Linked DNA regions of Homo sapiens: region 1 is linked to region 2. The links come from fine-mapping of genetic effects on gene expression. A gene starts in region 2. The other region holds a variant in brackets. All regions are shown on one strand. Distances are from middle to middle. Region 1 holds the start of MPO (myeloperoxidase). Region 2 holds the start of EPX (eosinophil peroxidase).

The links.
Region 1: its variant is fine-mapped to the expression of EPX in tibial nerve (GTEx, PIP 0.93).

What each region holds. Positions count from the first base shown.
Region 1 is chr17:58,273,816-58,282,081 of GRCh38, reverse strand. MPO (myeloperoxidase) reads left to right here and starts at 1,147. Exons shown (of 12, transcript NM_000250.2): 1 at 1,147-1,477; 2 at 1,623-1,716; 3 at 2,068-2,243; 4 at 2,436-2,559; 5 at 2,656-2,785; 6 at 2,868-3,074; 7 at 3,937-4,255; 8 at 6,380-6,540. The coding sequence starts at 1,324. RefSeq lists promoters at 1-67, 113-338, 223-624, 1,017-1,157, 563-1,157 and enhancers at 2,799-3,488, 5,496-5,517, 5,456-5,575, 4,620-5,575, 5,570-7,836 and 3 more. The variant T/A (reference allele first, on the strand shown) is at 4,620.
Region 2 is chr17:58,189,132-58,197,443 of GRCh38, reverse strand. EPX (eosinophil peroxidase) reads right to left here and starts at 4,718. Exons shown (of 13, transcript NM_000502.6): 1 at 4,522-4,718; 2 at 4,313-4,406; 3 at 3,898-4,073; 4 at 3,613-3,730; 5 at 3,352-3,481; 6 at 2,274-2,480; 7 at 187-505. The coding sequence starts at 4,597.

The DNA of each region.
Region 1 (8,266 bases), 85 kb before region 2:
GAATCATTAACCCAAGTCCTCCCAACTGCACTGATCCTGTCCCAGAGAGGCCCTGGGCTGCATCACCTAACTGATCACTAACCACAACCAGTTCTGCTCTCTCCTGGTTCCTGAAATCCAGGAGCAGATGGTGGTGGGGAGGAGGAGTTTGGAGACAGCCCTCTACCAGAAGCCAAGAAGAAAGGGGAGTGAGGAGGGATAGAGGAAGTTATCTTGGTCCTGCGCCCACAGTCCCCAGGGTCCTCCTTCCTGTGAAGCCCAACGGTCTCCAGCCAGATTTCCTGTCCCCTTAGCCCCACCAAGAACCAGAGGCTGCCCATTGGGTGGCTGTTGGATGCAGGTTACTGTTGGAGTGGGGGATGGCCACCTGAGGCCAATTGGGTCATCTTTACTCCAGGTCTCCCTTTCATCCTCCTGTCTTCCCTGGGGGCACTCTATTCCCTGCAATTCCTTGGGCTACCAGTTCCTGACTTTTGTTCCTTTCAAAGGAACCCTGGATAACCAGTGTAACCAGAATTTCAGAGGGGTTAGTTGTGTGTATCCCCTGGGGACAAGCACTGGTATAGGCACACAATGGTGAGCTGAGAAATCTTGGGCTGGTAGTGCTAAATTCAAAGGCTGGGGACAGGCTGGGGCCAGTGGCTCATGCCTGTAATCCCAGCACTTTGGGAGGCTGAGGCGGGTGGATCACTTGAGGTCAGGAGTTCAAGACCAGCCTGGCCAACATGGTGAAACCCTGTATCTACTAAAAATACAAAAATTAGCTTCTTGCCTAAGGAAAAATACAAAAATTACTTCTTGCCTAAGGAAATAATTGATGATGTGGCTAGAGGCTAGGGCGTGGTGGCGGGCACCTGTAATCCCAGCTACTCGGGAGGCTGAGGCAGAAGAATCGCTTGAACCATTGCACATCAGCCTGGGCAACAGAGCAAGATAACGTCTCAAAAAAAAAAAAAAAAAAGGCTGGGGACAATGCTGGCCCCTCCTTTCCTGCCCCTTCCCCCCATTTCAGGGGCCCCTCTGTGTGTACCTTCCAACCCCAGTGGGGGAGGAGAAAGAGTTCAGTCTCCAGGATCAGACCTTCCTCTACCTCACCCCACCCCCAGCTTAGAGGACATAAAAGCGCAGATTGAGCTAAGAGGAGCTGACAATATCAGGTGAGCTGTGGAGGTGGGGTCCTTGGAAGCTGGATGACAGCAGCTGGCAAGGGGATAAGAGAGCAGTGAGCCCCTCCCTCAAGGAGGTCTGGCTTTATCCATAGACAGGGCCCTCTGAGGTGGGGCTGAGGTACAAAGGGGGATTGAGCAGCCCAGGAGAAGAGAGATGGGGGTTCCCTTCTTCTCTTCTCTCAGATGCATGGTGGACTTAGGACCTTGCTGGGCTGGGGGTCTCACTGCAGAGATGAAGCTGCTTCTGGCCCTAGCAGGGCTCCTGGCCATTCTGGCCACGCCCCAGCCCTCTGAAGGTGCTGCTCCAGGTAACAGTTCCCAAGGTGGGAGAAGATGGTGTGTTGGGGTGGTTGTGTTCCAGAGACCCCTTTTCTCAGAGCAGGCCTTCCTAGCTCTGGGGCCTGATAGGGGGTTGGGGCCCATTCCTGACTTTGTGATCCCTGCTCTGGGCAGCTGTCCTGGGGGAGGTGGACACCTCGTTGGTGCTGAGCTCCATGGAGGAGGCCAAGCAGCTGGTGGACAAGGCCTACAAGGAGCGGCGGGAAAGGTGGGGCACGAGGCACTGCCCAGCTCTGGGCAAGGATGTCCCAGGCCTTTCAGAGAAGCAGCAGGCAGCAGGGAGCTTGAAGGTGGGAGAGGGGGACTATGGGGACCCATGTGGACTCCCTTTCTGTCTGTCTGTCCCTGTGTTTCTGGATGGGAGAACAGCTTAAAAGCCATCCTTCCCAAAGCCTTGCCTCTGTCTGGACACCCAGGTCCATATCCTTTTTATAAAAGGAAGCCTTCCTCCCACCCGTGGGCCTGCCTGCATGGTCCTGCATGTCTGCCCCTGGGCTGGGGCTCTGCTGGGTGGGTCTGTATCCCTTCTCTGGCCCTCACTCCTCCTTTCTCCAAGCAGCATCAAGCAGCGGCTTCGCAGCGGCTCAGCCAGCCCCATGGAACTCCTATCCTACTTCAAGCAGCCGGTGGCAGCCACCAGGACGGCGGTGAGGGCCGCTGACTACCTGCACGTGGCTCTAGACCTGCTGGAGAGGAAGCTGCGGTCCCTGTGGCGAAGGCCATTCAATGTCACTGGTACTGTTGCCCATCACACCCCAGGTCCCTGCTCCACTAGTGACTCCTCCTAGGGACCCCAGCCGTCTCTCAGTGATCCCCTCAACTTCTTCCTCCAGGGAGTCTCAGGAGTCTCCAGGGCTCCTCAGCCTCAGGTTGCCTGGGATAGGAAGTGAGGCGGCTCAGCTCCCCCATTGTTCTTTCCCCCGGCAGATGTGCTGACGCCCGCCCAGCTGAATGTGTTGTCCAAGTCAAGCGGCTGCGCCTACCAGGACGTGGGGGTGACTTGCCCGGAGCAGGACAAATACCGCACCATCACCGGGATGTGCAACAACAGGTGCGGCTGGCTGGGGGTGGCTGCAGGAACCGGGCTCAGAGAGGCGTCCCGGACGCCACAAGCCTCCCGGTGTCAGCGCCCTGTCCTCCCCTGCAGACGCAGCCCCACGCTGGGGGCCTCCAACCGTGCCTTTGTGCGCTGGCTGCCGGCGGAGTATGAGGACGGCTTCTCTCTTCCCTACGGCTGGACGCCCGGGGTCAAGCGCAACGGCTTCCCGGTGGCTCTGGTGAGCGCCGGCGGGCAGAGGGGGCGAGGCCCGGCCACGCGGTGCGCGGACCCAGGCGCCAGCTGATCTCCGTGTCCCGCAGGCTCGCGCGGTCTCCAACGAGATCGTGCGCTTCCCCACTGATCAGCTGACTCCGGACCAGGAGCGCTCACTCATGTTCATGCAATGGGGCCAGCTGTTGGACCACGACCTCGACTTCACCCCTGAGCCGGCCGCCCGGGCCTCCTTCGTCACTGGCGTCAACTGCGAGACCAGCTGCGTTCAGCAGCCGCCCTGCTTCCCGCTCAAGGTGGCCCTGCTTCCCGCCCACTGCCTGGGTTGGGAGAGGGGAGATTGTTTCTGGAAGGGGCCATCTCCCTTCTGTGCCCAGGTTTCCTTTCCCAGACGCTGAGGAAGGCTGGCCCTGCCTCCCTTGTGTCCACAGCACTGGCTGCTCAGCTATGACCTGTCTCCTTCCTGCGCCTGGGCTCAGCCAGCTGGCAGCCAGGGCCGTCCATTTGCTCACTGCCTCTGGCAGGCCAAGGGAGAGAGGGTTGTTCCTCCTTGGCTGACAGGAGTCCTGTTGGTGGAATCACTGGCTCTTTGTTAGGTTGGGAGAGGGTTCTGGGAGGAGACCTTCTCAGTGCCCCCCAAGCCTCCATGCTCAGTCCTGTTTCCGCCCCACTGAGAGGGCAGCCCCAACCCCCATCACACAGAAAGAGAGAGCCTGGGGGTCTGGTGGGTGCCGTGGGACAGGGCTGGGAGTGGGCAGGGTGGTCGAGGCACTGCTGAGTAGGGAAGGAGGAGGAGAGAAAGGAGAGAGCGCCTGAGAGAGGGAGAGACAGACAGGAGAATGTCAGGGCCAGAGGGAGAGCAGGCACAGCAGAGAGAAGGGGAGAGAGACGGGCGACGCTTTAGTGAGGAGGGATCCGAGGCCTGGCGGTGCCCAGACCCAGGGGTTGCCCAGGTTCCCAGTTCAGTGTTCTGCTCATTAACCCTGCACCTCAGAGGCTGTTGCTGATGGCGCCCTAGGCAGCGATCCCTTTCGGGCCTCCGGAGGCCTCTCTGCAGGTTGAGGGTACCAGAGGTCCTGAGGGCAGGGGGAGATCCAGTTCTGCCTGGGCACCTTCCTTGCCCTCGGTGAGCCAGTCTAGCCTCTCTCTGTGCCTCAGATCCCGCCCAATGACCCCCGCATCAAGAACCAAGCCGACTGCATCCCGTTCTTCCGCTCCTGCCCGGCTTGCCCCGGGAGCAACATCACCATCCGCAACCAGATCAACGCGCTCACTTCCTTCGTGGACGCCAGCATGGTGTACGGCAGCGAGGAGCCCCTGGCCAGGAACCTGCGCAACATGTCCAACCAGCTGGGGCTGCTGGCCGTCAACCAGCGCTTCCAAGACAACGGCCGGGCCCTGCTGCCCTTTGACAACCTGCACGATGACCCCTGTCTCCTCACCAACCGCTCAGCGCGCATCCCCTGCTTCCTGGCAGGTCAGCTTTGGGGTGGGGACCAGAGGTGGCATAGGAGATGTTCCCTGTTGGAGCCACAGTGAGTCTGTTTGTGAGCAGCTTGTGGGTTTGTACTTAGAGAGACTGTCCTCACCAGCCATTACTATCAACTTCATGATATTAATCCAGTTGCCTTGGTAACAAGTCAGATGGAGCCAGAAAAGCAGAAAAGCAAACAACCTCTCCAACCCTAAGATGGAGACCCAGGCATGGCTGAGGAGCCTCTGTCCATCAGTCCATTGCTTTCTCTGTCCCTTTTTTCCCTTCTGGACTCTGGAAGACAAGAGAGTCAAATCCCTCAGGGGCAGGGAACTAAAGGACAGAGAACGCTGTGGTGCCCTCACCC[T/A]CTAGAGCGACACTATCCAATGTGGTAGCCACTAGCTGCATGTGGCTATTTTAATTTTAGTTATTTTAAATTAAATAAACCCAGTTTCTCAGCGGTGCTAACCACATTTCAAATGCTCAATTGCCTTACAGTCTAGTGGCTCCCCCTATTGGGTGGCACAGATGTAAAATATTTTCATCATCTCGGAAGGTTGAGTTGGACCACACTGCTCCAAAATATCCCCTCCTGCGCATCTTAATTACCCATAATAAGAGATGATGGGATTTTAAATGTAAACAATTGGCAGTTTTGGAGACACAATTGGGGCAGTGATGGCAGCCATGACCAGACATTTTCCAGTGTTTTTTTTTTTTCTAAGACGGAATCTCACTCTGTCACCCAGGCTTGAGTACAGTGGCACAGTCTCGGCTCACTGCAACCTCTGCCAACTGGGTTTAAGTGATTCTTCTGCCTCAGCCTCCTGAGTAGCTGGGACTACAGGCGCCTGCCACCACACTTGGCTAATTTTTTGTATTTTTAGTAGAGATGGTGTTTTACCATGTTGGCCAGGCTGGTCTCAAACTCCTGACCTCATGATCTGCCCACCTTAACCTCCCAAAGTGCTGGGATTACAGGTGTGAGCCACCGCACGCAGCCATTTTCCAGTGTTTTTAAATGTAAACCCAATAGTGGACCTCAGGCCCTTTCCTCTGGCCTCCCTCTGCCTCCTCCTGATGGTTCCTGCTGGTCTCTCCCTGGCTGGGACCCTGGGAGGAGGATCCAGGTCGGACTTTCTGCAAGAGATGCCCGACCTCTTCTGGGCTAGTTAGGCAAGGGCAGCCCTCCTTAGCCAGACTCAGCTGCCCACAGCCTGGCTTTGATGAGCCCCATGTCCCAAGCCTGGGTCATTATGACCTCTAGCTGTTCATGGATGGAGATGCTGCTCTCAGAGAATTTCCTTTCCACCAGCTTCTAGAGCTGGCAAGGACTGACCCTAGTGTCCTGACCCTAGCCCTCTGGCCCCTGCAGAGAAGGGTTCTGGGAGGACTAGGGGAACCAGGGGGGATCTGCTTAGTTTTCTTGAACAGTCTCAGGTGTGGACTCCACATATCTCATGTCCTAGCCCTCTCCCCTGGGGCAGGCTGCACCATTGGCATGTAGTAAAGGGCAGGGCTGACAACTCTGTTCAAATGGTAGTGGCTTTCTGGAGTCCTGTGTTGAGAAGGATTCTGAGGTTGCATCCAATTTTAGCAGGAAAGAGTGCTGTGATCGTTAGCTGCATCAGACATGGGCATGGATGTAGGCTGTGCCAACACGCATGCTTCTTCCCAGACACTCCTTGGAATCAAGAGAATCAATGAACCAAGCAGTGTTCATAAGTCTCATACTTTGTACCAGGCACTCTGTTAAGCCCCATGTATCCATATGTGTGCTAGGAGGGAGGGTAAAATATAAAAAGGCACAAGCCTTGGTCCTGTGCTCAAGGAGCTCCCAGTTTCAGGTACAGGAAAGTGGCATGTCATGTGTTGGAAGTGATACCTATTGAATGAGCATCCCCAACCAGCAGCGGCCCTGAGCTGAGGCAGAAGCTATCATTGTGGACTGGGGCATCAGGGAAGGCCTCCTAGAGGAGTGTAAATTGGGGATAGTTTGAAAAGATGGATGGGGAGGAGGGGTGAGTAGGAGGCATTTCAGGCCTTGGCTGGGGAGGGGGTTTCAGTGGAGCAAATCTTTTCTGGGATGGAGGCCTTAAGAATGACAGTGGCTTTTGCCTCCCCAAGGGGACACCCGTTCCAGTGAGATGCCCGAGCTCACCTCCATGCACACCCTCTTACTTCGGGAGCACAACCGGCTGGCCACAGAGCTCAAGAGCCTGAACCCTAGGTGGGATGGGGAGAGGCTCTACCAGGAAGCCCGGAAGATCGTGGGGGCCATGGTCCAGGTAGGCCGTCTTGAACACCGGGCACACGGGATCCAGATGTGTCCCTGCAACATCCTAGCTGTGTGACCTTGGGCAAGTTCCTAACGCTCCTGAGCCTTGCCTTCTTCATCCATGAGGCTGTAAGGATTATAATACATATATGAAAACACCTTTCAGATAGTAAGTGCTTGACAAAGCCTCCTTCCCTTCCCTCTCCTTCTTCGCAGGTTTGCTCCCTGCAGTCTTCTTTCCTGTGGGTCTGTTATTGGTGTTGGGAGGGTTGAATGTTTGGTTTAGCGCCCAAGTAGCTGTTCAGTAAATTCTTCTTCCCTCCATCTCACTGTCACTCTTAGCTCCTTTACCCACTCACCTCTTCTTTTTAAAATTAAAAAAATTATAGGGCTGGGCGCGGTGGCTCATGCCTGTAATCCCAGCACTTTGGGAGGCGGAGGCGGGTGGATCACGAGGTCAGGAGATCAAGACCATGCTGGCTAACACGGTGAAACCCCATCTCTACTAAAAATACAAAAATTAGCCGGGCGTGGTGGCGGGCACCTGTAGTCCCAGCTACTTGGGAGGCTGAGGCAGGAGAATGGCGTGAACCTGGGAGGCAGAGCTTGCAGTGAGCTGAGATGGCGCTGCTGCACTCCAGCCTGGGTGACAGAGCGAGACTCCATCTCAAAATAAATAAATAAATAAAATAAAATTTAAAAATTATTATTATTATTTTATTTTTATTTTTTGATACAGGGTCTTACCCTGTTGCCCAGGCTGGAGTGCAGTGGTGCGATCTTGGCTCACTGCAACCTCCACCTTTCAGGCTCAAGCCATTCTCCCATCTCAGCCTTCTGAGTAGCTGGGATTTCAAGCACGGGCCACCACGCCCGGCTAATTTTTGTATTTTTTGTAGAGACGGGGTTTCGCCACGTTACCCAGTGTGGTCTCAAACTCCTGGGCTCAAGTAATCCGCCCTCCTCGACCTCCCAAATCCCTGGGATTACAGGCACGAGTCACTGTGTTCAGCCCACTCACCTCTTCTTTTTGGCTCTGTCATAATCCACCCAATGTCCTTAGCCTCATTTACCCCTGGGGCAATGTTCCTGGTTCTGTCTCTCAACATCTGGTGCTTCATTGCCCCCACCCTCTCCCTCAGAGGCAGAGGCAGACATACACACACTCACACACACACACACACACACACACACACACACACACTCCTAGATTCTGGAGGAGAGAGTTTTCGGTGCTAAGGGTGAGTTTTTGATTTGCACTAAGAACTCAAGTGAAATTCATTTACACTCCAAAATAACTTCTAGACTCTAGAATGTAGAGTGAGACTATTCCATGTCTTCACTTTTCACAGGGAAAATCATGCCAGAATGGCCCTTCGTTCCTTCCTGCCTCCCTGCTTTCCACAAACCTAAACTGAGCCTTACTGTGGGCAGGCACTTGGTGGGCACTGTGAAGAATTTCAACAACTTCAATTTCCCTTGCTCTCAAGGACTTTATAAGATAGTTGCAGAAATGAGACATTAATAACTTGAGGACAAGGAAGTTATCACAATGACTAAAAAAGTGATTTGCTATTTAGTCCTCTAAGGCAGAGGGCAATATAATTATCCTTAATGTACATTTGAGGAACTCAGGCTCAGAGAGGTTAATAATTGGTCCAAGGTCACCCAGCCAGCAAGCAGTAGAACTCTATTTATGCCTCTCAGTGCCACTCTGTTAGGCCCAGGTCCGGTAT
Region 2 (8,312 bases):
ACAGGGAGCTTGCAAAGGGACTCAACGTTCTGATTCTATGATGGCTGTGCACAGATCCATGCTTATGGTGTGCCTAATACTGAGGTCCCAAACCATGTACCTTCACCACATCCCACCATTGCTTCCCAGTTGGGACCCCAGGGATGGCTGTTTCCTGGGAAGACACCACCTTCCTCCCTGTCTGACCTGCCAGGAAGCAGGGGATGCGCGCCGAGCGGTTGGTGAGGAGACAGGGGTCATCGTGCAGGTTGTCGAAGGGCAGCAGGGCCCGGCCGTTGTCTTGAAAGCGCTGGTTGATGGCCAGCAGCCCCAGGTAGTTGGTCCGGTTGCGGAGCCGCAGCGAGAGGGAGACCTCACTGCCATACACCATGCTGGCGTCCACAAAGGAGGTGAGCGCGTTGATCTGGTTGCGGACTCTGTTCTTGTTTTGGGGGCATGAGGGTGCCGAGCGGAAGAAAGGGATGCAGTCACGCTGGTTCTTGATGCGGGGGTCATTGGGTGGGATCTGAGATGGAAGAGGAGACAGTGACATGGGGCCCCCTCAATAGCAGACTCACTCCTCTCCGTCATCTTCCACCTCCTCAAAACCTTGCTTAAAACTCCCTTCCTCCAGGAAGCCCTCCTTGACTCACCCAGGCTCATGCTGCTCACCCCGTCAGTCTGAGTGTCCTTAACATTTTGTTTCATAGAGTCTCAAAAGGTTAGGAATGAATGAGGCTTTTGAAACAATCTCGATCCTCATTTTACAGCAAGGAAAACAGCCTCAGAGAGGGGAAGTGACAACCAGTTAGCAGGAAAGGTGGGATTAGAACTTAGTTCTCTTGACTCTTAGGCCTGAGCTTCTTTAATTCTGTTCAATTCGACAGACCTTTTCTAAGCCCCTTTCTTGCTTGCTGCTTTGGAGATTATGAAGGTTAAAAAAACACAGGAAAGGTTGCAGGAAGCTGGCAGTTCAGTGGAAAAAGACACACACACATAGAGTTAAGAAACTAAGTTGAAGTGGCATCTGCTGTGCTTGATAGAAAAGCCATATGTGGGCCAGGTGTGGTGGCTCACGCCTATAATCCTAGCACTTTGGGAGGCCGAGGCAGGTGGATTACATGAGGCCAGAAGTTTGAGATCAGCCTTGTCAACATGGTGAAACCCAATCTCTACTAAAAATACAAAAATTAGCCAGGCTTGTTGGCACATGCCTGTAATCCCAGCTACTCGGGAGGCTGAGGCATGAGAACTGCTTGAACCCAGGAGGCAGAGGTTGCAGTGAGCTGAGATTGCCCCTCTGTACTCCAGTCTGGACAACAGAGTGAGATTCTGTCTCAAAACAATAATAATAATAATAAAGAAGAAAGAAAGAAGGAAAGATAAAGAAAGAAAGGACGGAAGAAAGAAAAAGAAAGAAAAAGAAAGAAAGAAAGGAAGGAAGGAAATGAAGGAAGGAAGGGAAGGAAGGAAGGAAAGGAAAGAAAGAAGAAAGAAAGAAAGAGGAAGGAAGAAGGAAGGAAGGAGAGAGAGGAGAGGGGAGGGGAGGACATATGTTAAAAGTGTAATAGGAAGATCTGAGAAGGCTCCCCAGAGGAGGTGCCCCTAAGCCAGGGATTGAGGAATAGATAAGGTTGCAACAGGGAGAGGCCATCCAGAGGCCCTCACATGTCATCCCTCATGAATGTGGCCCCACCTATTAAGGGTGACTGTGTGTGTACATGTGTGTGTGAGAGGGAGCGTGTGTGTGCACGTGTGTGTGTGTGAGAGAGTGTGTGTGTGCACGTGTGTCAACCCTATGTTCCTAGCAGAGACTCTGCTCCCTGGATTCTATCTTTCCTCCCCTAGTGCCCCACACTGTCCTTGGCTTCTAGCCTGAAGGTTAGGACCCTACTTACAGCCCAAGCCCAAGAAGCTGGCAAGAGCCGCAGGACCCTTGGACTACTCTGGGAAGGAGAGAAGGGCAAGAGCTAAGAGGCCCTTAGGTTGCCAAAAGCAGGGGCCCAGAGGCTTCCCCTGTTGGATTCAGACCCATGGGTCAAGGCATGTGTCAAGGGCTTCCCACTCCATGAAGCCTGACCTGAGCCTCCTGGCAGATTGCCCTACCCCCACCTCTCAAACACACACGGCGCGGGGTCTCTGCTCAGCTGTGTTTCTTGTGTCTCTGTCTCATACCCTAGCTCCACAGGCAGCTCCTTAAGGATGGTGCTCCAGTCTTCCAGATCCCCACCCCCAGCACCTTGCCTTTGGGGGAGGCCACACAAGGGCATGGGAGATTGGCTGAGGGTAGGTACCTTGATGGGAAAGCAGGGGGGCAGCTGGGCGCAGGTCCTCTCACAGTCAACGCCTGCAGTGAAGGCCACTCTGGCCGGGGACTCCGGGGAGAAGTCCAGGTCATGGTCAATGAACTGGCCCCACTGCATGAACATGAGGGCTCGGCCACGGTCGGAGGTCAGTCTCTCATTGGGGAAGCGCACAATCTGGTTGGAGACAGCCCGGACCTGGTGGGGAAATAACATCAGCACGGGACATGGGCTCCCTGACCCCACAAGGTATTAGAGCCAACCCAGGACTCAGGGAGCAGCAGCTCCCCTGCTGGAATTGACAGCCTCTCCTCTTCTGCCCTCCATGCCCCTTTTGTCCCTGGAGGCGTAGCCACCTCCTGCTCTCATTCCTAGAAGGATGGTTTCTGGCTGGGCTCCTGAGGATTCCGGTGGTAAAGAGAAGGAGAGGGGCTAGGTTGACTGGCTCAGACCTCACCAGCTCTCCCAGAGGGGAAGGGAGATCAAATAGATAGATCAATTTGTACACTGATAGCTAACCAGATGATAGCACGGATTCACAGGTGCATGGGCTGGTTGCCAGGTGATGGATAATACACGTAGGGAGTACGGGGTCAGCAGATGGAAGGGTGGATAGAAGAAAATTAATTAATAGATGTTGATAGATGGGTAGATGATAGACTGCTCTATCGATATATCAATAGAAAACTGATGAGTTGATAAATGTGAAATAGATCAATAGATAAAGCCAGATTAAGGTATAGAGCTGTTTATATTTAGCAAGACTTTGACACTAATTTTCTCAGAAAAAACCGTACAACACCGTAATGGTTAGCATGAATAGATCATGTCCTCTATAGCTATTTATACCAAGGACTTCAATATCCACACAGGCTCTACGAGGTAGGTTTTAGGGCCATTTTACAGATGAGGAAACTAAGCCTCAGAAAGCTGTGTTATTTGCCTCAAGTCACTGCACTGGTCAGTGGAAGGGCCTGGGTTCAAGCCCTGCCTGCGTGACTCTGGGCTGTGTTTTACTCCCCGCATTTAAGAGATCAAGCAACCTCCCAAACCCTCAGCCCCAACTCACAAGAGGGAGAAGGAAGCCATTGCGCCTCCTGCTGGGGGTCCAGCCGAAGGGGAGCGACAGCCCATCCTCATACTCGGCGGGCAGCCAGCGAGCCAGAGCCTGGTTGGAGGCCCCTAGCAAGGGTCTCCTCCTGCAGCCATGGGTGGGATAGGTTAGCAGGGGGCAGGGCCTGGAGATGGCTCAGCATGGAGGGAGAGGGTGGGTGCAGGAAGGGAGAGGTCCCCCAGGCAGGGGCAGCCCCTCCTGCCGCCCCGCACGCACTTGTTGTTGCACCGTCCAGTGATGGTGCGGTACTTGTCGCTGCAGCGCTCGGCCTGGTCCCGGAGAGCACAGCCACTGGCCTGGGACAGCAGCCGCAGCTGTGGTTCTGTTAGCACATCTGTGGGAAGGCAAATGGGCAGACCTGAGCTGGCCTGCTCTGTACCTCCCATCCCTTTACCCTCTCTCCTCCCAGCACCCCAAACCTGTGCACCCTGCCTCCCTCTCCTGGATTCCTTCTACTCCAGGCCAGGGTAGGCCCAGCGGGCTCAGTGGGGATCAGAGTACCAGTGACATTGAAGGGTCCGGACCGCTGGGGTTGTAACTTCTCTTCAAGCAGCCCCAAAGCCACATGCATATAATCTGCGGCCCGAACAACTGTCCTGGTGGCTGCTACCGGTTGTTTGAAGTAGGACAGGAGGTCCATGGGGCTGGCTGAACCGCTGCGAAGCCGCTGCTTGATGCTGCCCAGGAGAGGAGGAGTGAGGGCTGGAGAGAGGGTGCAGACCCACCCAGCAGAGACCCAGTCCTGGGGCACAGTCAGGACAGGGCAAGCGGACAGAAGGATGGATGGAAGGGAGGCTCTACCAACAGGAAATGTTCATGGGGTCCAGAGGTGGCTGATGAGTGAGATGAACTTGGCTGGGGCCCATGCCCCTCACTGATCCTCCCAGGCCCATGCAGCCCCCAGACCCAAGTCCACCTCTTCTGGGTCCAATTGTAGGCAGCATCCACCAGCAACTTGGCCTCTGCTATGCAGTCTCGCAGGACCGAGGTCTCCACTGCCCCAGGGGAGGCTGTTCAAAGAGATGGGGACTCAGGGTTCAGCAAGCCACAAGACCCCCTCCAAGACCCAAGTGCTTCCCCTTCCATTTCCCCTCCCTCCTCCTTGCCTGTCTAGGGGACTATTACCTGGGTCAGTGCCCTCACAGGGCTGGGCGAGGACGAGTGTGGCCAGGACCCCTGCCAGGGCTGGGAGCAGATGCATCTCTGCAGCGAGGCTTCACCAGCTGGGAAGTGAGTGACATCCACAGCCTGCACGGGAGGATCCTCTGCTCCCCTCTCACTTTGAGGACCCCCAGCCGACCTCTCACTTCCTCCAGCTCTTCTCTGGACGTAGCTGGGAAGGGACTTTTATAGCCCATTCTAGGGTGGGGGAGGGCAGCTCTGGGCCCTAGAAACCCAGCCTCTTGGGTGGAGTTCTGAAACTTCTCTCTGGTTTTCATGGGAGTTTTGAGACTGAAACCCCCCACCCCACCTCCTACCAGCCTGGGGACATTCTTCCTGCCTACCCTTCACTCCATCCCTACCCTCTACTACCAAGCCCACTGATGCACTTCTCCCAGGGCCCAGAGCAGCACCTGGGACACAGGTGTCGCTCAATGGATATTTGTTGGCTGACAGGAGCGGTGCACCTCAGTCGCCACCGCCTGGCTGCATGGCCTTGGGCAAGCCACTTTCCCTCTCCAGGCCTCAGTTTTCACATCCCTAGAATGAGAGTTGGGCCAGATGATTGGAAGGGTGCCTCTCCTCCTGCAACAGGGCAGAAACTGAATCTGCCTTACTGTTATACACACCCCCCATACCCAGCTCAAAGCCCAGCATTTAGTATGTGCTTAGCAGGTGTTTGTTGAGTGAATGAATGATCTGTGATGAATGATTTGGCCCCTCTCCTTATCCCCTAGCCCTACTCACTCCCTCCAAGGTGCCAGGGAGAGTGTGAGGCTGTGACTGAGGCAGGGCCTGGCAGTGAAATCCCTCATGGGGCCATTTTGGGGACATGGCGAGATGTCACAGGTAAAACACCCAGCCCAGTGAGCTGCTGCAGAGCCTAAAAGTAAGCGCCCGCCATGGGCTTTATTCTCTTGGAGTTTCTTAGGTGCCAATCAGTAGTAGGTTTACTCTGAGAAGTAGATTTCAATTATGAGTTCCTATTGGGCTTGGTGAGAAGTAGCTTCTTTAGAGGCAGTGTGCTGCACCAGGGTCTGATTGGCCTGGATTGAATCCAGCCCTGTCACTAGCTTCGTGACCTTGGGTGAGCCTCCATTTCCACCTTAAGTGCGCCTCCATTTCCACCTTAAGTGCAGAGTGCATCCCAGTCGGCCTTCTGCCAGGGCCCACCCTCTCTGCACCTAAGCCTTCCTCCTGTAGTTCCCTGCCCTGGATGAGCCAGGTTCATCCTTTGCCTCTGACCTCATCCCGGCTGCCTGGAGAGCACATGCTCATCCCTGAGACAGTTCCAGAGTCACCACCACTGTGGCCAGCAGCCTGCGTGTCCTCGCCCCTTCTTCAGGAGGACACGTCCATTCCTTCTTCAGTGTGGACCCCGTGCCTGCTCCAGACTCCCAGGGAGGCTGTTCCAAGTGTCCTTTCTCCTCCCCCACCCCCACACCCTACCGAAACCCTGCCCGGTGCCTTCCACAGCCTCCTCCTCCCACAGCAATGTTACCAGCCCAACCGTTGCTCTTGAAACAACCACCTCTCTTCGGCAACCCCTTTCACAAGCTCCAGTTGATGGCCTGAGCCCTCCTAATCTTATCTCCTTATCTTTAGCGGAGGCCCCTCTCCTGTGACGGGGGGCCTGGGTAGAAGTCACTGTGTAGGAGCTGAAAGCACACTGGGTTCCTTGATGCTGACCCACTGAGTGACTGGGTAAATCACACCCCTCCATGGACCTGTTTCCAAACCTGTGAGATGGGGACAGGGAGCCTCATGGAGGAGAGAGATTATATAAATCACACAGCACTCCTCAGCTGTGTGTCACCTCCCGGCCCTCAGGGAGCCAGGTGCTCCCCGGGTGGAGCCAGGTGGAATGCATGTACCCCAGGTTGGAGCTGGATGGGGTGTATGTACCACAGCTTGGAGCCAGGGTGGGGTGTATATAACCCAGGTTGGAGTTGGAGTAGGGTGTATGTACCCTAGGTTGGAGCCAGGGTGGGGTGTATGTACCATAGCTTGGAGCCAGAGTAGGGTGTATGTAACCCAGGTTGGAGTTGGGGTGGGCTGTATGTACCCTAGGTTGGAGGCAGGGTGGGGTGCATGTACCCCAGGTTGGAGTTGGGGTGGGGTGTATGTAACCCAGGATAGAATTGGGGTGGGATGTATGTACCCCAGGTTGGAGTTGGAGTGGGGTGTATATACCCCAGGTAGGAGTCGGGGTGGGGCGTATGTACCCCTGGTTGGAGTTGGGGTGGGATGTATGTACTCCAGGTTGGAGCTGGGGTATGGTGTATGTAACCCAGGATAGAATTGGAGTGGGATGTATGTACCGCAGGTTGGAGCTGGGATGGGATGCATATACTCCAGGTTGGAGTTGGGGTGGGGTGTATGTAACCCAGGTTGGAGCCAGGATGGGGTGCATGTATCCTGGATTGCTGTACTTCCAGGGTCCCCAGCACTCAGAGTGAGCTCTGCTCTCCCTGCAGAGGGTACTCTAGTTCTTCAACAATAGTGAGCAGTGCAAGGGTTTCTCCACAGCCATGGGCTGCCGTGGGTTATTGGGACAAGCCTGAGACAGAAACCTAGGCTCTAAGCCCAGCCCTGCCATGGTGGCTGATCTCTTGGGGATTTGGACCTATTGGTTGCTCGGGGTGGTGATGAGAGCCTGCTGCCTGGCTCTCCTGGACTCTGGCTCTGGATGTCTCCTTAGCCTACTTTCTGCCACGTTTCCCCCACAGGACCCTGCCCCTAGGCTCCAATCATCCTAACCTTCCACATATAACCCCCACCTTTTCTCTCCTTCCAAGCAGCTCCTAATTCTGCCGGAAGCTTCCTCTTCCTAGCAGGTCCCTCTGGGAAGCCATTTCTGAGTCACCCCACAAGCTGGGCTTGGTGCCATAGCCACAGCACTTAGCAGGCGGGAGCTCCTTGAGAGCAGTACAGGGAGGTGGCTACAAGCTGAACTTGGTCCCCATTCTAGCACCGTCATCCACTTGGGCAGGCTCCTCAACCTCTGAGCCCACCTCCTCACTGTCAGATGGAGGTCATTCCTAGTCTACCTCGCAGACATCATTCCTGACACATAGCAGGCGCTCAACAGTGTTGTTGAACATACCTTGTTTTTCTGCCCTATTGTTGCTTCCTTTATTGAGGTCCCTTGAGGCTGTCTGTCAAAGGCAGCAATTGCCATTGGCCTGAAGGGTGGAGGCAGTGAGTGCAAGGGATTTGCAGACCCTTCAGGGCTGGGCGCCTGGAAGGGAGGCCTCCAAGTTTAGGGCTGTTCAGACCGAGGCTCTCCAAGCACTCCTCCTCATGTCAGAGTGGGCGTGCCAGATACGGGGCCACTGGAGACGGAGTGAACGTGATGAAGTGACAGAGACCTCTCTAGCCCCTCTCCAGGGGCTTTCCAGCCTGGACCCCACCCACCCTCTCCAGCTCTGGCCCCCACTATGGGGCAGGTGACATGCAGGGTGCTCGCCATGTCTCACAGTGGTCCACGTCGACATCTGCTTTTTCCTCCCTCTGGTCAGGGCCAACCACATGCAGGGACAAGAAGAGGAGTGTAGGCAAGGGCCCCCTGCCCTCTGTGTCCCCCTCGTGGGCTTTTCATCGTGCCCACTGGGATTTCATTGGCAAGATTTTCCTTAGCATTAAGTGTTGTGCAGTAGCAACCTGGAGTATCTGACACTGGAAATATACACACACACACACACACACACACACACACACGTACACACACACACACACACACATATATATATATA